3 separate regions of the Homo sapiens genome follow, and regions 1 and 3 are each linked to region 2. The links come from fine-mapping of genetic effects on gene expression. A gene starts in region 2. Each other region holds a variant in brackets. All regions are shown on one strand. Distances are from middle to middle. Region 1 overlaps IFT140 (intraflagellar transport 140). Region 2 holds the start of HAGH (hydroxyacylglutathione hydrolase). Region 3 overlaps MEIOB (meiosis specific with OB-fold).

What was found. PIP is the estimated chance that this variant, and not a neighbour inherited with it, causes the effect.
Region 1: its variant is fine-mapped to the expression of HAGH in whole blood (TOPMed, PIP above 0.99).
Region 3: its variant is fine-mapped to the expression of HAGH in cerebellum (GTEx, PIP above 0.99).

Annotation. Positions count from the first base shown.
Region 1 is chr16:1,572,302-1,580,478 of GRCh38, forward strand. The region is part of intron 13 of IFT140 (intraflagellar transport 140); the gene reads right to left. Among named protein-coding and RNA genes, the nearest start is that of IFT140, 36 kb to the right of the region's middle. The variant T/C (reference allele first, on the strand shown) is at 5,124.
Region 2 is chr16:1,822,082-1,830,258 of GRCh38, forward strand. HAGH (hydroxyacylglutathione hydrolase) reads right to left here and starts at 4,744. Exons shown (of 9, transcript NM_005326.6): 1 at 4,631-4,744; 2 at 784-956; 3 at 219-283. The coding sequence starts at 4,706. It overlaps FAHD1 (fumarylacetoacetate hydrolase domain containing 1), which reads left to right and starts at 5,125. Exons shown (of 1, transcript NM_031208.4): 1 at 5,125-6,829. The coding sequence starts at 5,158. The coding sequence ends at 5,823. RefSeq lists enhancers at 1,821-1,890, 5,155-5,344 and a silencer at 4,095-5,064.
Region 3 is chr16:1,855,659-1,863,835 of GRCh38, forward strand. It overlaps MEIOB (meiosis specific with OB-fold), which reads right to left. Exons shown (of 14, transcript NM_001163560.3): 4 at 6,327-6,458; 5 at 4,745-4,817; 6 at 2,077-2,272. Among named protein-coding and RNA genes, the nearest start is that of MEIOB, 12 kb to the right of the region's middle. The variant C/G (reference allele first, on the strand shown) is at 3,424.

The DNA of each region.
Region 1 (8,177 bases), 250 kb before region 2:
TGGCCTTTCCAGCATGTTAGAAAGCACGTCCCACAGTCGGCACGTTAGAAAGCATGCCCCACAGGCCGGGCGCGGTGGCTCACGCCTGTAATCCCAGCACTTTGGGAGGCCAAGGCGCGTGGATCATGAGGTCAGGAGATCGAGACCATCCAGGCTAACACGGTGAAACCCCGTCTCTACTAAAAATACAAAAAATTAGCCGGGTGTGGCGGTGGGTGCCTGTAGTCCCAGCTACTCGGGAGGCTGAGGCAGGAGAATGGTGTGGACCCGGGAGGTGGAGCTTGCAGTGAGCCGAGAACATGCCACTGCACTCCAGCCTGGGCGACAGAGCAAGACTCCATCTCAAAGAAACAACAACAAAAAAGAAAGCATATACCCCACAGTCACCCCACAGTTGCGCTGGAGCAGACCTCATGCTTTGTGGTGTGTCTTTTAGGGACTAACCTTAATCCTCTGAGTTTCAAAGCGAAGCTCTTGGCTCAATTCAACCAATGCCCAGTGAATGCCTACACCCTGCCCAGCAGTGGGTTGGGGGAGGAGCATCACAAGTGAGTGGCACATCCCCAGGGCACTCCACGTGGGGGCAGCGAGTCAGATGCGAACGGCTGAATGCATCCTGGGGCCAAGACAGGCAGCAGGGAAGGCACAGATCTAGTGCATGGGAGCTGCACAGAATCTGAGTGGCAAGGCAGGCTGGAAGGTGGGCAGAGCTCCAGGAGAACTTAGTGGGCACGGAAATCTAAACACAGACTCCAAAAGCCAGCAAAGGGGCAGGAGCCTGCACAGTGTGTTTAGGAAACTGAGGGTGAGGGACGGATGGCTGGAGTCAGGGTGGGAGTATTCCAAGCTGAGGAAGCTCACTTCATTTTGATGTATCCAGTGGGAGCCTAATAAATGCTTATGGAATGAGCAAGTGGCTGCTTGAACACAGGATAAAAAGAGCAGGGGGAGCGGACTAGCTGATGGGGCCAGGGCTGACACTATTAATGATGACAGAGAGCACTGGAGGCTCCTCGGTGAGCTCACTCCCTGCCCTGCCCCTTACCTGCTGGGTCCCGGGTTCAGATCTGAGCTCAACTCTTTTACATTCTTTAACATCTCTATGTCAATACATTCCCAACTCCCAAAGTACTGTCTTCAGGGCACTGACCCAGCTCCTGACCTCCAGAGCTTGTATTTCCAACTGTCTCTTAGACACCCCTAAGGGCTCTCCAAGGCACCACGAACTCGAACTTGCATCCTGCCCTGCCCCCTATGCCAGCTCTGCCTCTGGAGTTCCTGTCTTAAAGGTGCCACGACAAACCCAACCTCTCAGGCTAGAAAACTCAGAACATCCTCAGTTCTATACTCTCTGTAGCCACCCATCATGCAACTAGTCACCCCCCTTATAAGAGCCACAGTGCCCCTCCACTCCAGCTCTGCTGGTGGCTGCTGCCTGGGGCCAGGCTGAGCTGCTCTCCTGCGGCGTCTCCCACAACTTCACTCTTCTCCACCCTTAAGCTTGGCTCCCCACTACGCTGGCACAGAAGTTACTTTCTAGGGAGAAAATAACACAAAGCCAAGAAAATAAGTCAAAATTGGGGAAAGGAAAGAACTGTTATCAGAGGAAGGTAAGTCCTTTTCAGGGATCAGGCCCCCAGAGACCTTAAATGAGGCAGCAGCCACGCCCTGCTCTCCCTTGAGCTGTGTTCTTCTCTGGAAACTGCCTGCTGCCGCCACAGGTAGCTGAGAACTAACCTGATAAGCTGCCGCAGACCATACCTGCACCAATGCTCAGCCCATTGCTAATCAATGGCATTTCCATCAACCAAAGAGGATTCCTGACCAACAACCTGACATTAGCCTGTGCCCGGTCCCTCTTTTCGGCCTTAAAAACCTGCCTGTAACAAACGTAAAATGGAGCCCAGGCCCAGTGTTCCTCGGGGCTGAGTTTTCTGGGCAGCTGCCTTTATCCTGGCTCAGGTAGACTACTCACTTAATTACTTATTTATTTTTGAGACAGTGTCTCACTCTGTTGCCCAGGCTGGAGTGTAGTTGTACAACCACAGCTCACTACAACCTCAACCTCCCTAGGCTCAGGTAATTGTCCCACCTAAGCCTCCCAAGTAGCTGGGACCATAGGTTTGCCACCATGCCTGGCTAATATTTTTGTATTTTTTTGCAGAGACGAGGTCTCACTATGTTGCCCAGGCTGGTCTGGAACTCCTGGGCTAAAGCAATCCTCCCACCTGGGCCTCCCAAAGTGCTGGGATTACCGTCATGAGCCACCATGCCCAGCCAAGTAGACTGTTTAAATCACATTTTGTGCTTCAGTCTCTTTTTGGTCAACAAAATGTACCCTGTCACTCCTAGCTTCAACCCCAACTGCCCTCAGGGTGACCAGCCCTCCTGCCTCCCTTCCCACCTCCCACCACCAACTGGTCCCATATCCCACCCCCTTCCATGGCACTTGACCTTTGCATGGGAGGCCCCTCCCTCAGGTTCTCCATGGGGCAGATGTGACTCCCTGAAACATACGCAGGGCTGGGGCCCCAAAGTTCTGGCCTAGGAAGCTGTCCTTTTAAGGACTGGAAGCTCCTAAGTGTCTGTAGTCACTGCGTCCCTGACACAAACACTAACAGCAGCCATGCATCTGCATCCTGAGGAGGGATAGTGACCTGGAAGGACATGCTGGGTGTCCAAGAAGGGTCATGAGGGATCACTAACCCACCCTTACTCACGCCAGAGCCACCTTACTAGTTACAACTGACATGTATTCCTTTTGTAACTTAATAAATTAGTGGCCAGGCATGGTGGCTCACACCTCTAATCCCAACACTTTGGGAGGCTGAGGCAGGAGGGTCACTTCAGCTTGGTTCAAGACCAGCCTGGGCAACATAGTGAGACCCCATGTCTACAAAAATATAATAATAATAATAACAAAATTAGCCAGGCATGGTGATTGGCACCTGTGGTCCCAGCTACTTGGGAGGCTGAGGCAGGAGGATGAATTGACCCCAGGAGTTTGAGGCTGCAGTGAGCTATGATGGCACCACTGCACTCTAGCCTGGGCGACAGGATGAGATCTTATCTGTAAAAAAATAAATAAAAATGAAAATAAAAAAGTAGCCAGGCATGGTGGTGCATACCTATGGTCCCACGCTCAGGAGGCTGAGGTGGGAGGATCGCTTGAGCCCAGGAGGTCAAGACTGCAGTGAGCTATGATTGCCACTGCAGTGCAGCCTGGGCAACAAAGTGAGACCCTGTTTCTGAAAATAAAATAAAATAAAAAATTAACAGAGGAATAAAAGGACCCAACTCCATGGCAACTGTTGTTAGGTATCTTCCCAAGCTCTACAAGTAGGACTTCTCAGTGGGCCCACTGTTATTTCCCATCATGCCACTAGTGTTCTCCCAGCAGGCCATTCACCCTTTCCCATCATGCCACTGGCCTCTCCCAGCAGGCCATTCACCCTTTCCCATCACACCACTGACCCTCTCCTAGCAGGCCATTCACTCTTTCCCATCATGCCACTGGCCCTCTCCCAGAAGCCCATTCACCCTTTCCCATCATGCCACTGGCCCTCTCCCTGCAGGCCACTGGTGCCTGCACAGCCCCACCTCTGGAGGTCTTTTCTTGGCAAACACAGGTCTTGAACAACACAGGTCTGATTTTCAAGGGCCCACTTACATGAACTTCTTTTTTCAATAAAGATATTTAAAGGCCAGGCGCAGTGGCTCACACCTGTAATCCCAGCACTTTGGGAGACTGAGGCGGGTGGATCACCTGAGGTCAGAAGTTTGAGACCAGTCTGACCAATATGGTGAAACCCCATCTCTACTAAAAATACAAAAACTAGCCAGGTGTGGTGGCACATGCCTGTAATCCCAGCTACTCGGGAGGCTGAGAAAGGAGAACTGCTTGAACCTGGGAGGTGGAGGTTGCAGTGAGCCGAGATCATGCCACTGCACTCTAGACTGGGCAACAGAGTGAGACTCTGTCTTTAAAAAAAAAAAAAAAAAAAGTATGGCCGGGTGCAGTGGCTCATGATTGTAATCCTAGCACTTTGGGAGGCCGAGGCGGGCAGATCATGAGGTCAAGAGATCGAGACCATCCTGGCTAACACGGTGAAACCCTGTCTCTACTAAAAATACAAAAAAAATAGCTGGGCGTGGTGGTGGGCGCCTGTAGTCCCAGCTACTCGGGAGGCTGAAGCAAGAGAATGGCGTGAACCCAGGAGGCGGAGCTTGCAGTGAGCCGAGATCGCACCACTCCACTCCAGCCTGGGTGACAGAGGGAAACTTCGTCTCAAAAAAAAAAAAAACAAATTTTGACTTTTTTTTGGAGATTTGTAACAATTTGAAAAAACTCAGACAAACTATGTAGCCTAGAAAGAACAAAAAAATTAACAGGTATGTCGCGTATGCATAAAATATAGGTAGATACTAGTCTTTTATCAGCCACGTCCATAAAGTATACACAAATGTGCACATGCTTCCAGAGATGGCACTATGTGCAGCTGAGCGAAGTGTAAACCAACAGAAAGATGCGATCTGCAATCATAACTGCAGACAGGGAGCTGTGGCCCACATCGTGCTCCTGTCGGCATTTCACAGCTGCCTCCTGTTGCCACTGTGCTCAGTTTCACTCAAGTGTTTCGAAGATCCCCTTAAAATGTTGTGCAGTGCTAATCACCTCCGAGTGGGCAGCTCCTCTCTCCAGCAAAATGCACATCACATTAAAAAGTGACCTCTCACGGTTCTAGAGGATTTTTCATGCATTTCGTGCAATACTGTAAAAGGTGAATAACCCCAGGGGGACCCATGTGACATGCCACTAGTGATGCTGGAAGTGCTCCCGAGAAGCAAGGGAAAGCCGTGACATTACAAGAAAACGTGGAATTGCTTGATATGGACAGTAGATTCAGGTCTGCAGATGTGGACGCCACCTGTGGATGCCACCATTTCAGAAAGATGATTCATCCTATAGACTTAGGGTATCGATAAACACAGTACAGTACTATGAATGTATTTCTCTTCCTCATGATTTCTTAGTAGCATTTTCTTTCCTCTAGCTTACTTTACTGTAAGAATGCACTATGTAATACATAGAACATATGAAATATGTGTTAATCGACTGTTCA[T/C]GTTGTTGGTGAGGCTTCCAGTCAATGGTAGGCTGCGAGTACTGCAATTCTGGCAGAGTCAACAGTTATATGGGGATTTTCAACTGCTCAGGTGGTTGGCGCCCCTACCCCTGCATTGTTCAAGGGTCGTCTAAGCAGCTGCCCCTCATCTGTCCTTAAGAACACAGCCTGGCCGGGCCGGCACTTTGGGAGGCTGAGGCAGGTGGATCACCTGAGGTCAGGAGTTCGAGACTAGGCTGGCCAACATGGTGAAATCCCGTCTCTACCAAAAATACAAAAAATTAGCCGGGCGTGGTGGCGGGCACCTGTAATCCCAGCTACTAGGGAGGCTGAGGCAGGAGAATTGCTCGAGTCCCAGAGGCGGAGGTTGCAGTGAGCTGAGATTGTGCCACTGCACTCCAGCCTGGGTAAAAAAAGCAGAACCCCAACTTAAAAAAAAAAGCCTTGCTGTACCTCCCTTTATGTCCACAACAGATGCCCACATGCAATGGGAGGAGTCAGAGAGGCATAGGTAAAAAGACGGAGGGGTGGGCAGGGATGGCAGCAACAAGTGTGCTTGCTCTGGGCTTGGGATGCCCAGAAGGCTCTCAACTACTCCCTTCCAGCTTTACTGCCTCCCCTCGCACCCAACAGGCTGCAGGAAAACATGTGGTCGCGGCAGCTCCCTCTGCCCGTACTTCTCTCCCAGCTGGCACTGCAGCCATGCGGCTCCTCCCCATGTCTTCCCTCCACCTGATTCAGACAGAAGTCCTACACAGAGGGGCCCACCCGCTTCCGTCTTCTCCTTGGCACTTATCGCTGACTTGTCTCCCGTCTGGATGCCAACGAGAATTGACAATCCATGATGGGAGCACACAAGCACCATGTAAGGTACAAGGACAGGAATGTGGCCGCCCCAGGCAATCAGACGCTGGGTCCCAAGAAGGAACTTGGAGATGGATAAAAATCACAACGATAGCTAAAATCAGGCTCGTGACAAAAGCTCTCAACCTGGTCACAGAACCTTGCTGCACACAGTGGGCTGAATGGTGCCCCTCCCAAAGATATGTCCACTCAGACCTGTAGTCCCAGATGCTTGCAGGGCTAAGGCAGGACAATCACTGGAGCCAGGAGTTCAAGTCCAGCCTGGGTGACATAGTGAGATCCTGTCCCTTAAAAAAAAAAAAAAAAGACATGGCCGGGCGTGGTGGCTCACGCCTGTAATCCCAGCACTTTGGGAGGCAAAGGTGGGTGGATCACGAGGTCAGGAGTTCAAGACCAGCCTAGCCAATGTGGTGAAACCCCGTCTCTACTAAAAAGAAATACAAACATTAGCTGGGCTCCGTTGCCCAGGCTGGAGGACAGTGGTGCAATCATAGCTTACCGAAGCCTTGACTGCCCAGGCTCAAGCCACCCTCCTGCCTCAGTCTCCTGAGTAGCTGGCACTATAGGCGTGCGCCACCACACTCAGCCAATTTTTTTTTGTTCTTTAACAGATGGGTCTCAATATGCGGCCCAGGCTGGTTTCAAACCGCTGGGTTCAAGTGGTCCTCCCACCTCGCCCTCCCCAAAGTGCTCAGATTACAGATGTGAGTTACAGCGCTCGGCCTTTATATAACTTTTGACTTCCCCAAAACGTTAACTAGTAACAGCCTATTGTTGACAACAAGACTTACCAATAACGTAAGCAGTTGATTGACACATATGTATATGTTGTATGTATCATATACTGTTTTTCTCACAATAAAGTCACCCAGAAAAGGAAAATGTTATTAAGAAAATCGTAAGGAAGGGAAAATATGTTTACTATTTGTGAGGTGGAAGTGGGTCATTATCGAGCTCTTCATCCTCATCATCTTCACACTGAACAGGCAGAGGAGGTTGCTGATCTTGGTGTCTCGGGGTGGCAGAACCAGAAGAAATGTGCATCTAAGTGGCCCCTGCAGTTCAGACCTTGTGGTTCAAGGTCAAGTGCACAAGCCAAGGAACAGCAAAGCCTGCCAGCGCCACCTCATGCTGGAAGAGGCAAGGTGGAAGAGCTGGAGGCTCACCCTCAGAGCCTCCAGAAGGCACCAGCCTGGACAGCACCTGGATTGCAGACTTCTGGCTTCCAGAACTGTGAGAGAAAAAATGTCTGTGTCGGAAGCCCCTCGGTTTGTGGTAATTTGTTAGGGCAGCCACAGGAAATCAACACACTGTGTCTGCCCCCAGGTTCCAGCCAGTGTGTGTGGGATGCAGACGGGGCAGTGGATGCCTGACTTTACTCAGAAGGGAACCTCCTGGCCAGGCGTGGTGGCTCACGCCTGTAATCCCAGCACTTTGGGAGGCCAAGGTAGGCAGATCACGAGGTCAGGAGTTCGAGATCAGCCTGGCCAACATGGTGAAACCCTGTTTCTACCAAAAATACAAAATTAGTTGGGTGTGGTGGCGCACACCTGTAGTCCTAGCTACTCAGGAGGCTGAGGCAGGAGAATCGCTTGTACCTGGGAGGCGGAGATTGCAGCGAGCTGAGATCACGCCACTGTACTCCAGCCTGGGCGACAAAGCAAGACTCCATCTCAAAAAAAAAAAAAAAAAGAGAACCTCTTAGAGGTCGCCCTGGCCCTCCCACAAGACACATGCGGGAGACAGCCTGGCTAAGGACATTATGTCCTGAACTGGAGCCACCCAGCCAGCCGTCAGGGTGCACGTTAAGCCCAGCAAGGATTTATTTTCTTTTCATAGCCCCGTGTATTCAAAGTCCTGCAAAGTCATCCTTTTCACTGCAAAAGGTCCTTGCCTTGTCTCCCGATTTCTGAAGTGACAGCCACAGATTAAACAGCTGTCCTAGGATTCATTTTCACCATCAAGCACCTGACGCGGGAAATCCCATCTAGCGAGGTGATATGGTTTGGTTCTGTGTCCCCACCCAAATCTCACGATGAATTGTAATCTCCAATGTTGGAGGTGGGGCCTGGGGGGAGGCGACTGGATCATGGGGGTGGTTTCTCACAGTTTCCTAGTGTGTTCTGTGATAGAGATCTGACGAAATCTGGCTGTTTAGAGTGTGGCCCCTCCCGCTTCGCTCTCTCTTCC
Region 2 (8,177 bases):
AACCTTCTCCCCTCACCCTCGGGGCCTCAGAGTCACTGAGCACCAGACTTGCCCCTTGGGGGCTACGGTGAGTCCCGGGTCTTTCTCAGAAGTCTGCTGGGGGCTTGTCCTCACAAAGCAGACAGAGCCGTGGGGGGAGACAGGCCTTGATGTCCCTAAACCCACCGGGGCGAGAAGTGAGCCAGGTCCCACACCCCCAGGTGAGACGCGGCACTTACCAGTGGTGGTGGGTGGTGAGCACTGTGGTCAGTTTCACCCCGTGCTTTCTCGCCGCGTCCACGACCTGCAGTGGCCCCGGGGAAGGACAAAGGCCTGTCACACTCCTAGGCCTGGCTTGCTGGCCTATATGGTAGGGTGCCCAGCAGAACCCAGGACACGCCATGAGGGGCCGCTGACATGGCCCGTCCTGACCCTGCCAGCTTGCCCTGCTCCAGGAGAGCCAGTGAAAGCACCTTCTCCTTCCTGCTCAGCCTGACACTCTTGCAACCACCTACGACCGCTCCAAGCCCCTCCAGCTCTGAGGGCACCACCCCCAGAGGCAGCATGCAGGGGCAGAAAGCCCCCAAGAAGACTCAAGTGCCCAGGATTGTACTGCACAGCGCTTTCTGTGTCACTGCCTCTCGCCTCCACCCTTCTTGGAGCCCTGTTAACAGAGTGGCCGGAGACTAATTTCCATTTAGCTTAGGCAAAGTTGCAAGGACACTGCGGTTAGGAAACCCATCGGGGGTGAGGACTCCGAGCTGGGTGACCAGGGCAGGGAGAGCCAGGCACAGCCATGCGCACCTTCTGGGGCTGCACCGGATCCACAATGGCAGCCTCCTTGGTCTCATCATCAATGACCAGGTACATGTAGTTGTCGGTCAGGGCAGGCAGCACCTCTACCTTCATGGTGCCCTCGTCCACGGTCAGGTTCTTCCGCAAATCTGTGTGGCAGAAAACTCCCAGCAGGGCTGGACCTGCAGACACAGAGCACAACTCAGCGGGCAGCCGCGCCAGGCCCTCCACGACAGGACGCGCAAGCTGCAGTGCTTCCCAGCCTTTCTAGGTTCCTTTGAAAAGGAATATTCTGGCCAGGTATGGTGGTTCTTGCCGGGAATCCCAGCGCTTTAAGAGACTGAGATGGGAGGACTGCTTGAGGGCAGGAGTTTGAGACCAGCCTGGGCAACATAGCAAGACCTTGTCTTTTTTTTTTTCTTTTTTTTTTGAGACGGAGTCTCGCTCTGTCGCCCAGGCTGGAGTGCAGTGGCGCGATCTCGGCTCACTGCAAGCTCCGCCTCCCAGGTTCACGCCGTTCTCCTGTCTCAGCCTCCTGAGTAGCTGGGACTACAGACGCCCGCCACCATACCCGGCTAATTTTTTGTATTTTTTAGTAGAGACGGGTTTCATGGTGTTAGCCAGGATGGTCTCGATCTCCTGACCTTGTGATCCGCCCACCTCGGCCTCCCAAAGTGCTGGGATGACAGGTGTGAGCCACCGCGACCAGCCAAGACCTTGTCTTTGCAAATTTAAAAATTAGCCAGGCATGGTGGTGCATGCCTGTGGTCCCAGCTACTCCGGAGGCTGAGGCAGGAGGATCACTTGAGCCCAGGAGTTTGAGGCTGCAGTGAGCTATGACTGTGCCACTGCACTCCAGCCTGGGTGACAAGACAATAACCTGTTCCTTAAAAAAAAAAAAAAAAAAAAAAAAAAAAAGGAATATCTTCATATATCCCTGAGGAGAACACAGGAACTAACTCATGCTCACATTCATGGAAATCAATTGTTTCAGACTTACGATCTCTATTTTCTTTTTTGAGAACTCTAAAAGGACAGGAAGGCCAGCTTGTGATTGTGAGGCGAACCACTGCCAGTGCTGGATTATTCACACCCCGGACTCAGGGACAGAATGTGAAGAAGGGAACACAGACTAGGGGTGCCCCCGCCTGGCCATCTGCCCTCCAGCAAGCTGTGCTGCCACCACTGACTAAGCGAGCCTGCGTTCCATGCAGTTACAGCCCTTCTCAGCCTCTAGCCAGAAAGAACCAATACTTGACGGCAGGCTGAGGCAGGAGAATTGCTTGAATCCGGGAGGTGAAAGTTTCAGTGAGCCAAGATCGCCCTACTGCACTCCAGCCTGGGCAACAGAGTGAGACAGTCTCAAAAAAAAAAAAAAACAAACAAACAATACTTGCTCTTGAACAGCACGAATCTGAGATATGCACAAAAATCAGCAGTTCCTTTGAGACGGAAAGTTGGCCACAACTGCCCCCAGATTCAAGTGTGGAGGACACAAAACCACCATCCAACTGACCCAAAGGACTCTGCCACAGGGGCCCAGAAGGCCCAAGAGCTGGGAGGAGTGGGTGACCAAGGGACAAAAGTGTCTGCCACCCAGTCGACCAATGCAAAAATATTTTCAGCAATGAAACTCCTACTAAATCTAAAAATACCTGGGGGCCCCGACAATACCTTCAGTTCCGCTCTACACGGGGAAGAAACCACAGAAGGTGGCAGAGGACAGTGCAGTCCTGGGGTAGGTGCCACGGCAGGGGCTTCTCCCAAAAGGGATCCAGAAATGGGCAGCAGCCACCAACTGACAGACACACGCGTCTCCAGGGCCCACCGAAATGCGGAATCCGACCTTATTTCCACAGCCGGGGAAACTGCCCAAACTATAGTTTCAATCACTGCACAAAGATATCCTATTACCCGCCTGACAACCAGCTGGGCATTTTCCAGATCATTCTCCTCAGGAACAATAATACCAAGATTTCTATATGAGCAGCTTCCTGTGTTATTCCCCTTCCCCTTAGCCTCAGCACCACCCCAGCCCAAGGAGCACAACAAGCAGAGTGTGGGTGCTGGGGGCTGCAGGTGGGGTGCAGAAGGGTTGTGACAGGATTCCGAGTGCCGGGCGTCCTCCTGGAAAGGAGCTCCATTACAAACAAGGAGCAGAACATTACAAACAAAAATACTGCCCACGTGCGGTGGCTCACGCCTGTCATCCCAGCACTTTGGGAGGCCGAGGCGGGCGGATCGCGGGGTCAGGAGTTCGAGACCAGCCTGACCAATATGGTGAAACCCTGTCTCTACTAAAAAATACAAAAATTAGCTGGGCGTGGTGGCGAGCGCCTGTAGTCCCAGCTACTCAGGAGGCTGAGGCAGGAGACTCGCTTGAGCCCGGGAGGCAGAGGTTGCAGTGAGCCGAGATTGGCCACTGCACTGCCCAGGCGAAGAAAATGTCATTTACAACTGGTGCTCAGCCTCCCCTGGAGACCATCACAGCCTCCTGAAGAAGCTGACAACCCAGGGAGGTGCCTTTATTTCTGAGGAAAGACGCAGCTGGTGCCAACACCAGCAGAAACCGTATTCCCTTTCCATATCACTCAGCCCAGCACTGCCTGGCAAATGTTCCCGGCTTGCTGTTTTGTAACTGTAATACTTTGTACAAACAGGTCAAGGACCTGCAGCCTGGGGCCTGGACCAAGTCCAGAAACATGTTCGGTTTGGCCCCAAAAACAAAAAAAAATTGAGATATGGTCTCACTCTGTCCCCTAGGCTACAGTGCAGTGGTGCGATCAAGGGTCACTGCAGCCTCGACCTCCTGGACTCAAGCGATCCTCCCACCTCAGCCTCCAAAGTGACTGAGACTACAGTTGTGTGCCACCACGCCCGGCTGATTTTGTTTAGTTTTTGTAGCGATGAGGTCTCAACATGTTGCCAGGCTGGTCTGGAACTCCTGGACTCAAGCGATCCTCCCGCCTCGGCCTCCCAAAGTGCTGGGATGACAGGCGTGCGTCACTGCACTTCTTTTTTAAATCAGGAAGTTTCACAGCATCTTGCTTCCCTTGAACTGGGCGGCACCAAATACGGGGGCTGGGGCCTCCCTTAGAATGGGGTACGCACGCCCTGCCGATGCACACAGTCCCGCTGGAACTCTCTGCCTGGACCCTTATGAATGTCCCTAAAACTGTAATTCTGAGGACCTCAAAATCCATGTCCTTTCCTTAGCAATGGCGACATTCTACCCCCTGCAGAGCCTTGACAGCTTTCGGCGAGATCTGGAAACCGCCAGGGACGCCTCCCTGTCTGCGCCTCCGCCCGCCCAGTGCCCTGCGCTGCGCACCCGCCCGGGGCGCTGGCCTGGCCCGGCCGCGCGACCACCTCGGGCGAATGACACGCCGGGTCCCCAGACGGGGGCTCCGGCGCCGGGCGGGCAGCTCCACCACCGCAGGCGGCGCCGCGAGACCGCGGTCCTTGCAGCGGGGCAGCAGGTGCGGGGTGGGCCAGGCGTCCCGGGGCCCTGCCCGCTGCGCCTCAGAGCCGCGCCCCAGGCTCTCCTCGGCGCCGGCCCGGGCAGGACGCGATGCCCTGGAGGCGTCAGGGGCGCGGCCGGCCCAGCCCGAGCGTGGAGGCCGCGGCGGACGCAGGCCTGGCCCTGCTTACCTAGCGCTTTCCGCACCCGCGGCCCCGCGCCCGCTCCGCGCCAGCCTCAGCGCCTGCGCCGCCTCCGCTCGAGCCCGGCAGCGCGGCCTTAGGCACCTGCGCAACAGACACCGCGTCAGCGGTCGCCAAACGACGGCCCGGCGCCGCCCGCTGCCCGCCCCGCCAGGCCCGCGTCCCCCGGCCCGCACCGCCCCGCCGCACCCACCGAGGCCTCGGCGGGCGCAGGCGGCTCCCAGCGCGGCGAGGCTGCGGCGGCCGAGCAGCCCTCGGCCCACCACCATGACCCGGGCCGGGCTGGACTGCCGAGCTGCCCAGGACTGCAAAACACCGGCGTCGGCGCGTCGCAGCCAATCAGCGCCCGCCTCGCGCTGCCCTCAGCCAATCAGCGTCCACCTCGCACCGTCCGCCAACCAATCAACGCGCTCGCGCTCAACTTGTTTTGTCCGCGAGCCCCGACTGCCACGGGCCGGGAGACGGGCCTGGGAGCGGCGGCGGCGGCCCGAGAGCTGCGCCGGGAGAGCTGTGCCGCGAGCCTCCGCCTCTTTTTTGGCACCGCACAGTGGATCCCTGGAGGCCGAGCGCCACGCCGCCCGGGTACCCGGCAGATCGCGAGGTGGAACGGGCCGTCGCTGCGGGGGACAGCGTTCCGAGGCAGTTGGTCCTCTCCGGGATGCCGTAGGCATCAGCTGACCGGCCCAGCCCACGTGACTACAGGGGCACTTGATGGGAATCATGGCAGCATCCAGGCCATTGTCCCGCTTCTGGGAGTGGGGAAAGAACATCGTCTGCGTGGGGAGGAACTACGCGGACCACGTCAGGGAGATGCGCAGCGCGGTGTTGAGCGAGCCCGTGCTGTTCCTGAAGCCGTCCACGGCCTACGCGCCCGAGGGCTCGCCCATCCTCATGCCCGCGTACACTCGCAACCTGCACCACGAGCTGGAGCTGGGCGTGGTGATGGGCAAGCGCTGCCGCGCAGTCCCCGAGGCTGCGGCCATGGACTACGTGGGCGGCTATGCCCTGTGCCTGGATATGACCGCCCGGGACGTGCAGGACGAGTGCAAGAAGAAGGGGCTGCCCTGGACTCTGGCGAAGAGCTTCACGGCGTCCTGCCCGGTCAGCGCGTTCGTGCCCAAGGAGAAGATCCCTGACCCTCACAAGCTGAAGCTCTGGCTCAAGGTCAACGGCGAACTCAGACAGGAGGGTGAGACATCCTCCATGATTTTTTCCATCCCCTACATCATCAGCTATGTTTCTAAGATCATAACCTTGGAAGAAGGAGATATTATCTTGACTGGGACGCCAAAGGGAGTTGGACCGGTTAAAGAAAACGATGAGATCGAGGCTGGCATACACGGGCTGGTCAGTATGACATTTAAAGTGGAAAAGCCAGAATATTGAGTTATTTCTTAACAAGTTTCGAGAGAGAAGGGAGCAAGACAAGAGCAAGCAACGGCTATTAAATGTCACAATCCTTTAATTAGAAACCATTTATTGGCCGGACGCGGTGGCTCACGCCTGTAATCGCAGCACTTTGGGAGGCCGAGGCGGGCGGCTCACGACGTCAGGAGATCCAGACCATCTTGGCTAACAGGGTGAAACCCCGTCTCTACTAAAAATACAAAAAATTAGCCGGGCGTGGTGGCGGGCGCCTGTAGTCCCAGCTACTCTGGAGGCTGAGGCAGGAGAATCAATTGAACCCGGGAGGCGGAGCTTACAGTGAGCTGAGATTGCGCCACTGTACTCCTGGGCAACAGCGAGACTCCGTCTCAAAAAAAAAAAAAAAAAAAGAAACCATTTATTTTAAAAATGATTAGATTGCTATGCCTCAACTCATAGAAGATGAACCCTTCAAGAAAACGTGAAGTAGAACGGGTGGGCCAGAAATGAAAACAGGCAAGTAAAGTATTTCTTCGGAAAACATTTTATCAAACCAAATGTTAAAAAGACTTTCCTTTTGTAAAACTGGATTAGAGAAGACTTTTCAGTGGGTTATCTCTAGGATGATCAGTAGTTCAGCACTTAAAAACTGCAGAGAAAACTGAAAGTTATGTTCCAGATAACTTTCCGTTGTTTACCAAATTTTCTTAGATTTGGTCATCATCAGGAAGCATTTGTAAAAATAAAAATCTCCACAAATTACTGGCCCATCTCGGACTTGCTGAATCAATTTGATAGGATTAATCTCCAGTGAAGCTGTGTTTACAGGGCATTCCAAGTGATTCTTATCAGGAAATGTGAAAAACACTCCTGTACATAATCGGTTAATTTAAAATTTTACTTAATAAGTGAACAAGTAATGAAGATTTCACCTGTTTACTTAGGGTATCTACCCAGACCCATCGATTCTGAGTTCGGGAGATGATTTTGAAATTACTGTTTTCCAAATAAAGGTGCTCCCTTCTAAGTGGCTTACAAGGGTAATTTTTTTCCCCCCAGTAATGACGAGGAGGGATATTTCCTCCTTGTGGGGCTTCAGACCTTAGTCTTTGACCTTTGGCCTTCTGAGCACTGTGCTGTGTTAACACAGTTAATCAGCAACTGTACTTCCCAACCGGAGATAAGGAGGCTTTGTGGAAGTTGAATAGCCTGGGACTGCTGCTTTTGCTCTTGCCTGCACCCTCCTCTGAAAAAACATCCAGGCAAGATGCACAGCATAGCTGTCAATGCCTGGAGGAGTCCTTTGGGCTTCGGCAGGGGTTCCTGTTCGCGTTCACATCATCTGCTGGCCCCTGAAGAAAGCCTAGGACATCTGATTGAGTAGTAACGGTCCCCATGTATTGAACACAGTACTGTTAGGCACCATGCCAAGCAGTTTATTCTGTATTTCCACGTGTTATGTAACCAGCAACCAAGCCATAAGCTTAGTATGATCACTACCATCCCCATTACTCAGATGAAGACAGATCTAGAGGCTGCGAAGGCTGGCTAAAGTCACTCAGCTTAGTGGCAGAGCCGAGATGTAACCCAGCTCCCCCAAGACCAGAACGTGAAGTTTTGACCACAATGCAGGCTGCATCTTGTAAGTAGATACATAAGAAGAATCAGACACTTAGGTATGCTGCAACCCCATGCTTAAATTATAATATAGTATGAGGAAGTGCCATAATTGGATTTCTTTATTAAGTATCATGCTATCTTAACTACTTTTAGTATTATTTTTTCATTGCTTGGCAATGCATGTAATTACAGAAGAGTCAGAAAATAGAGATTAGCAATTAGAACAAAACACCAAAAATTTCATCTACCCAGAGACAGCCAAAGTTAAGCATTTATTGCAAGTTCTTCCAAGTCTGTGGATATAATTGTAATTTTTTAAATAGAGTTTGCTCATACCATACAATTTTCTTTTTTTTCTTTCTTTCTTTTTTCTTTTTGAGATGGCGTTTAACTCTTTTTGCCCAGGCTGGAGTGCAGTGGCACAATCTCGGCTCACTGCAACCTCTGCCTCCCAGGTTCAAGTGATTCTCCTGCCTCAGCCTCCCAAGTAGCTCAGATTACAGGCATACGCCACCACACCCGGCTAATTTTGTATTTTTAGTAGAGACAGGGTTTCACCATGTTGGTCAAGCTGGTCTCGAACTCCTGACCTCAAGTGATCCACCCGCCTGGGCGTCCCAAAGTGCTGGGATTACAGGCATGAGCCACCGTGCCCAGCTATACCATACAATTATTTAACTTGCTTATTTCACTGTATATTGTGACCATCTTTTTCCTTGTTAGCTGACACATTTCTGCAGTACAACTTTCATGGA
Region 3 (8,177 bases), 34 kb after region 2:
GGGAAATCGCAAACAATTGAGCACTCCTTTGAACAACTGAATAGGATTGAACATAAACTGCCTACAAAGTGACTTCTCCTGTTTTTCAAGATGATCATATAGCGGGCTTATTCCTTCTCCCTAAAGTATACAGATGCTCCCCAGGTGGCAGGCATGTCCTCCACAGCCAGGGCCCTGCCATCTGAAAGGGTCACGTTCTCTCAGTCACCATTTAATATAACAAGCAATTCACATTTACTTACATGAACTATCATAAGCATGTGTGTTTTTTCCTTTTTTTTTTTTTTTGTCTCTTGACTATCATCCCTCTCTATATTAAGAAATTACTCTTGCCTCTTTATTTATTTATTTATCAACCCAGAATCTCGCTCTGTCGCCCAGGCTGGAGTGCAGTGGCGCCATCTCAGCTCATTGCAACCTCTGTCTCCTGGGTTCAAGTAATTCTCCTGCCTCAGCCTCCTGAGTAGCTGGGACTCCAGGTACCTGCCACCATGCCCAGCTAATTTTTTTTTTTTGAGACGGAGTCTCGTTCTGTCGCCCAGACTGGAGGGCAGTGGTACGATCTCGGCTCACTGCAACCTCCACCTTCCAGGTTCAAGTGATTCTCCTGACTCAGCCTCCCAAGTAGCTGGGACTGCAGGAACCTGTCACCATGCCCAGCTAATTTTTTTTTTTTTTTGAGTCGGAGTCTCGCTCTGTCGCCCAGGCTGGAGTGCAGTGGCGCAATCTTGGCTCACTGCAAGCTCTGCCTCCCGGGTTCACGCCATTCTCCTGCCTCAGCCTCCTGAGTAGCTGGGACTACAGGCGCCCACCACCTCACCTGGCTAATTTTTTGTATTTTTAGTAGAGACGGGGTTTCACCGTGTTAGCCAGGATGGTCTCGATCTCCTGACCTCGTGATCCTCCCGCCTCAGCCACCCAAAGTGCTGGGATTACAGGCGTGAGCCACCGCACCAGGCCACCCAGCTAATTTTTGTATTTTTAGTGGCGATGGTGTTTCACCATATTGGCCAGGCTGGTCTCGAACTCCTGACCTTGTGATCCACCCGCCTCAGCCTCCCAAAGTGCTAGGATTACAGGCATGAGCCACCACGCCAGGCCTTTTTTTTTTTTTTTTTTTTTTGAGACAGGGTCTCCCTCTATTGCCCAGGCTGGAGTGCAGTGGCATGATTTTGGCTCACTGCAACCTCAACCTCCCAGGCTCAGGTGATCCTCCCACTTCAGCCTCCCAAGCAGCTGAGATTACAGGTACACACCACCACATCCGGCTAATTTTTGTATTTTTTGTAGAGATGGAGTTTCACCATGTTGCCCCAGGCTGGTCTTGAACTGGGCTCAAGTGATCCCTCTGCCTTGGTCTCCCAAAGTGCTAGGATCACAGGTGTAAGCCACTGTGCCTGGACTAATTTTCATGTACTTTATTTTGTGAAACTTTACCGTTGAGGTCTACATCTCAATCTCCGCCTTGTGGCTCTGGTCTGTCCAACTACAGAGCTCAGAACTTGCTACAGTAATTCAGACAGACGCTGATGCACCAGAAGGGAACACCCCCCTGGTGCCCCACGGAGGGCCATCCTCCCGTGCACCTCACCAGCATGGTCCCACTGCACCTATTAGACCATGGAGCCCTACAGCAGGGCAGCGTGTATTCCCACTCCCTCCCTGGTTGCTGGGCAGCTCTGAGCACAAAGGCACAGAACTGATCCCTTAACTTATTCAACTACGCCCCTTCAAGGAAGGTCATGGAGATTTTCGAGTCAATAAGCTTACCCTTTCCATTTACATCTTTGTTTAAGCAATGTATAAAAAGTTCTCCTATAGTTAGCAGATCATTTACGAGCAGAGTGGAACACTGCATTTAGCATTCAAATACAATTTTATTTTACTACTCATCCACAGATAAAAAGCTAGTTTCCCTTTAATGAGAAGTGTTACTGTTTTCTTAATTCAGCATACTACCAAGATAGAGAAGAAAAGTTACCCCAGCTGATCGTGACCACTCCATCCCAAACACAGATCAAGTGACTGCACCTCCCCTGCCAGATTGCACTTGGCTTTGTCGGGGTTTTAACTTACCGATTTCACAGCTGCAAGCACGTTAATAATCCTCCCATTAAGACTGTGTCCATTTGCAACAATGTCACCCAGTGAATAATAATCATGAGACTCTTTAACAGGTAAATGTATCAAAGAAAGTAACTTTGTGTCCACTTCATAACTGGAACAAACTTTTACTGTTGAGTGATTCTCACTGAGCAACAGTTTACAGTTGCTAAATTGCAAAAACACAAGAAAGTTATTTGAAAGTGATCTTTGGAAAGAAAAATATTTCCAGGTCCACATTTAAACTACATTTTTCATTGAAATTTAGACAATACTAATATATACTTTTTACTCTTAGAAACATTGAATAATACAGCAAAACATTTTTTGTTTACAGTGCACTTTCATTAAGGAAATGTTTTGAGAATTGATTCGTGTCGGGGTTCTAAACATACCATTTGTCTGATCTTGCCCAAGACTCTGCGCTTGTTTCCTTCTCCAAAAAAATAGGAGCAAAAAAGCGCTCTGAAACTTTCAGGGGTTATACAAACCCAAGGACTGGTTGTTTCTCTCTCTTATGGACCTGGCTGTTCTGCCTTAGTGCCTCAGGTCAGGGACTGTGTTTTTCCTACCCCTACTGAGCTCTGCATGGAGCAGACGCAGAACACTGGCACAGTGAGCCCGAACTGAGGAGCTCTCCCTCCTGCACCGAGTCCCTCCCGGCCCTTGCACTCTGTGCCCCAGCAGTCCTCTAACCCAGCCCCACCTCCTCCCCACTGCTCGGCCTCACTTACCTACCTCATCACTTCTCTCCCAAGCCACTGCCTTGCTATCCTAACTAAGCTTCATTCCCCTACAGTCCATCCTCCATAAGCAAAGTGATCTTCCTAAACCACAAATATGAAAATATTATTTCCCAGCTCAAAGACCATCATTGTGGCTACCAGTCACAAAGGAAATAACTCAGTATGAAAGCAAAGCTGTCTGTAAAATATCTCTGCTTCCACCTTAAGCTTCTCCTCCTGCCCGTGCCCTGCATTCCAGCCGTATCAGACTATTACATTATGAAATTGGTATTTCTAGATGAAAAATAGTAAAACATCAGCAGTTTCATATGGCTCAAACTAATATTAACTGTTCTGGAAAAGACAGGAGGTTTCCTGTTTCTTCCCTCTACCAAGAATATTCTCTCCATCTAACCATCCATCCATCACTTCCATGAATACTGAGAATCTGTTATATACCAGACCCTATGCTAGGCACAAGGGATATGGTGGTGAAGAAGGCAGACAAGACCTTTGATCTCATGAGGCTCACATATGTGAGGGGGAGACCCAAGAACAATGAATCAAACAATCTCAGACGGTGACTTGGGTTATG[C/G]TGACAAAAGCCAGGGCAAAATCCCAGTAATTGACCATTAGCGCTACCACAAACAGAGTAGATGGGGAAGGTTGAAGAAGATGACATTTAAGCTGTGAGTCAATAACCCAAAGAAGCAAATAGTCAAACAGATGGGAGAAAGTTCTATGCAGAGAGAGAATAGAAAATACAAAAGTTTGGCCAGGCGCGGTGGCTCACGCCTGTAATCCCAGCCCTTTGGGAGGCCGAGGCGGGCGGATCACTTGAGGTCAGGAGTTCGACACCAGCCTGGCCAACATAGCAAAACCCCGCCTCTACTAAAAATACAAAAATTAGCTGGGTGTGGGGCGTGTGCCTGTAATCACAGCTACTTGGGAGGCTGAGGTGGGAGAATGGTTTGAACCCAGGAGTTAGAGGTTACAGTGAGCCGAGATCGTGCCACTGCACTCCAGCCTGGGCAACAGAGTGGGACTCTGTCTCAGTAAAAAATAAAAAATAAAAATAAAAGGAAATACAAACGTTCTTAGTGCAGAATGAGTTCACGGTGTTCATGAAATATAAAGAAATTCACTGTGGCTACAGAGAAATGAGGCTTGAGAGTCTGGCATAAGATGAGGTCAGAAAAGAAGGTGGGAACGGGTCACAGTTGATGCGAGTGTAAATGCTGTAGACTGCTGTGCCCACCAAGAGCCCTTTACAGGCTGGTACAGGGCACAGCTACACCCTTCTCTCCAGAACTGCCAGACCCGCCTTTGAGCTGATGCCCCGCCCCATCCTGCGGGTTTGGGGAGTGGATGGACTACAGCCAGGGCACTGCTCTAAGGGGCCACTCCCACTCCAGAGCTCCCTCCCGGCTCCTGCTGAGGCTCCAGGTGAACCCACTTCTCTGCTCAGCTGCTTCCTGGTCTATCCTCGCAGGGTTCCCCTGAGAGCTCACCCTCAACCAACCACTCCCACAAGAGTCCTCCTCTCAAGCTCTGCTTCGAAGGAATCTGCCCTAAGATGGTAAGCCTGTGAGTAGAAGGATACCTTGACATGAAAAAAGACAGATGTAATTTCCAAAGTTTATCTTTTCTCCTCATTCAGTTTTAACATGACAAAGTCAAATTTTTGTAAATCTAAGAATGAGAATCAAAGTACTAAAACCAAAGCCATTTATCATGTGACTCTGTATCAAAGTAAATTATGTCATAATCAAAGATGAATTTTGTAAGAGAAAATTAAACTCCTCATTTTTATTGAAATAGAAACAGAACACTTTTAGTAAGATCTCTGCTAATCTGATACAACATTATTAGTAATGATCATTCTCGCACAATCTCTGTGCTAGACAGATGCTTACCTAGGAGTTGCAGGGCTGAATTTTTCTTCTCTTTCTATTTCCTTTCTTTGGATCAGAGGATTTTCAATTATCACTAAAACAGAGGGCAAAGTATGATGATATTACAAAACAGTAACAAGATAAACACTAACATCCTAAATAACATCCTGTTTAATTTATGATCATCATCGACTCTAGGCTTTAAAAATTCCTCACCTCATTCATCTTCTCCATCATCAACATATAACATATTTTGATACTGAGATGTCAAAATTGAAATCTTTATCTCCATATGTAACTAATATTCCAGCATTTATTCAAGGGATGTCTATAGCTATACTGGGCCCTATGAAGTTTGTGAAGCTTTCTGCCTTCATAGTCCATATGTTCAATGACCCTATTATTCAACTAGAGAGATACCATACATTGTCCTGAAAGTTAACAATACAAGGCAATATATGATTAGGTTCTAAATAACCGGTATGGGGAGTCAGCTGCTTGAGACCACAGTATTAAAGAGGAGTGTTTTCATTACCTGCATTACTCTTTTCTCTTTTTCTATCGTGAAGAACTAGTATACATGCTTTCTTGTTCCTTTTATGAGGCTAGGGCTCATAAAAGTTATCTGTTGAGTGACTAAGTTCCACACGTTATACTAGGTACACCATCTCATTTAATATTTACAAGAACCTAATGAGGTATTATTTCATAGTTGAGACCCAACAAGATTAAGAAATTTTCTCAAAGCCATGATGTAAGTCAATGTTGGAACTGGGATTTGAATCTAGACCTCTGTGTTTTCAAAGTCTCCTGTTCTTCCTACTATATGAGGCTGTTCTGTCAAAGAGATACTGGGGTGAGTAGATGTAAAAGATTTGGTATTTCAACTAAAAGTAAAGTTCCTTAAAATCCCATTAACAATTTAAATATCAGTTTTTATCAAAATCTATTCAGTGGTCAAATGTCAACTTTTATCAAAATATATTCAGTGGCTGTATTATATGTCTATAGAAAGATAACCAATTATAACAATAAAATGGGTTGGTGCAAATTGAAATATGTAATAAACCAAAGACAGTAAGGTTATTTAGTAAAAATATAACTATCACATTTGTATGCTTCAAATAACATTCTGAATGCCTCGCATTGCAGTCTTTTTTTTTTTTTTTTTTTTTTTTTGAGACAGGGTCTTACTCTGTGACTCAGGCTGGAGTGCAGAGGTACGATGTTGGCTCGCTGCAACCTCCACCTCCAGGGCTCAAGCCACCCTCCTGCTTCAGCCTCCTTAGTAGCTGGTACTACAGGCCCACGCCACCACACCCAGCTAATTTTTTGTAGAAATGGGGTCTTGCCATGTTGCTCAGGCTGGTCTCGAACTCCTGAACTCACGCAATCCACCCACCTCAGCCTCCCAAAGTGTTGGGATTACAGGCATGAGCCACCGTGCCCCACTGCATTATACTCTTAACACTTGACTTTTTCTGATAAAGTTCTTGAGAATTACGAACTGTGTCTCATTTCAACTCCTTCAGTATAGTTACCATAAACATACCACAGGAATAACACTATGATGGAAAAAGTTTAAGAATCAATGCCAACTTACCACAGTCACCAACCCTAAAGCTGTCAGAAAGAGACTTGATGTAATCTTCATTGCCCCAGGAAGCTGCATTTACAAAATGTGCTGGTGAATCCCGAATGGTGAAGCTGAAAGTGTACCTTTCTGATCCAATATCTAAGGGAAAACCAATGCTTTTATTTTTCAAATGAAGAGTTTCAATCGCTTCTCTGCCTTTTGATAAGTGTTACATGAAAAGTTTCATTTCAATTATAAACAAATGATTATTTGTTTAATCAAATAACTATTGATTATGATAATAAAAATACTCAAATACATAGTACAAAATGTTCTTTCAGATGTATATTCTATAACATGCTTCTATGAATTTCAAGCTGAAGTGGTAACAGGTTGCCCCCTTGCTCCCTTCCCTGGTGATCTGTGTATTTGGAGGGAAAAACATGTAAACTTGAGCCATCCAGGTATTACCTTAGGTTCTCCTTTTCTCTCTTACTGTTGTTTCAACCTAAGTCATAATTCAGATCTAAATAGTTATTTCAGTCCCAGCTACTTAGGAGGATGAAGCAGAATGACTGCTTAAGCCCAAAAGTTCAAGGCTTCAGCGAACTGTGATTGCCCCACTGCTCTCCAGCCTGGGCAACAGAGCAAGACCCCGTCCCAAAAATAAAAGTAAAAATAGGCCGGGCGCAATGGCTCACGCCTGTAATCCTAACACTTTGGGAGCCCGAGGCGGGTGGATCACCTGAGGTTAGTTCAAGACCAGTCTGGCCAACATGGTGAAACCCTGTCTCTGCTAAAAATACAAAACTTAGCCAGGCGTGGTGGTGGGCGCCTGTAATCCCAGCTACTCGGGAGGCTGAGGCAGGAGAATCGCTTGAACCCAGGAGGCGGAGGTTGCAGTGAGCCGAGATCCAGCCTGGGTGACAAGAGAAAAACTCTTGTCTCAAAAATAAATAAATAAATAATAATAAAATAAAAATAAAAATTGGCCAGGCACAACAGCTTACCCCTGTGATCCCAGGACTTTGGGAGGTGAGGTAGGAGAATCACTTGAGGCCTGGAGTTCAAAACCAGCCTGGGCAACATAGAAGGACACCATCTCTACAGAAAATTTTAAAATTAGTGGTGGCACTCATCTTTAGTCTCAGCTACTTGGGAGGCTGAGGAGGAAAGGTTGCTTGAGCCCAGTTTAAGTGTGCGGTGAGCTTTGAATGCACCACTGCACTCCAGCCTGGGAAGAATGAGTTCAGGGTGTTCATGAAATGTACACCCAGGCTGGAGTTCAGTGACGCGATCTCTCGGCTCACTGCAACCCCTGCCTCCCAGCAGCTGGGACTCAGCCTCCTGAGCAGCTGGGGCTACAGACGCACACCACCATGCCAGGCTAATTTTTGTTTTTTGTTTTTTTTTTAGTAAAAACGGGTTTCGTTTTTGTTTGTTTTTGAGACGGAGTTTCGCTCTTGTTACCCAGGCTGGAGTGCAATGGCGCGATCTCAGCTCACAGCAACCTCTGCCTCCTGGGTTCAAGCAATTCTCCTGCCTCACCCTCCCAAGTAGCTGGGACTACAGGCGCCTGCCACCATGCCTGGCTAATTTTGTACTTTTAGTAGAGACGGGGTTTCACCATGTTGGCCATGCTGGTCTCGAACTCCTGACCTCGTGATCTGCCTGCCTCAGCCTCCCAAAGTGCTGGCATGAGCCACCGTGCCTGATGAGACAAGGTTTTTTAGTAGAGGTGGGGAAGAACAGAGTGAGACCCTGTCTCAAAAAAAAAAAAAATAAATTTTAAAAATAATTAAAATAAGTTATTTCAAAACAAATTATGTGCTACTTAATGAGGACCACTAGGGGTCAGCAAATACTTTTTTTCCAAAA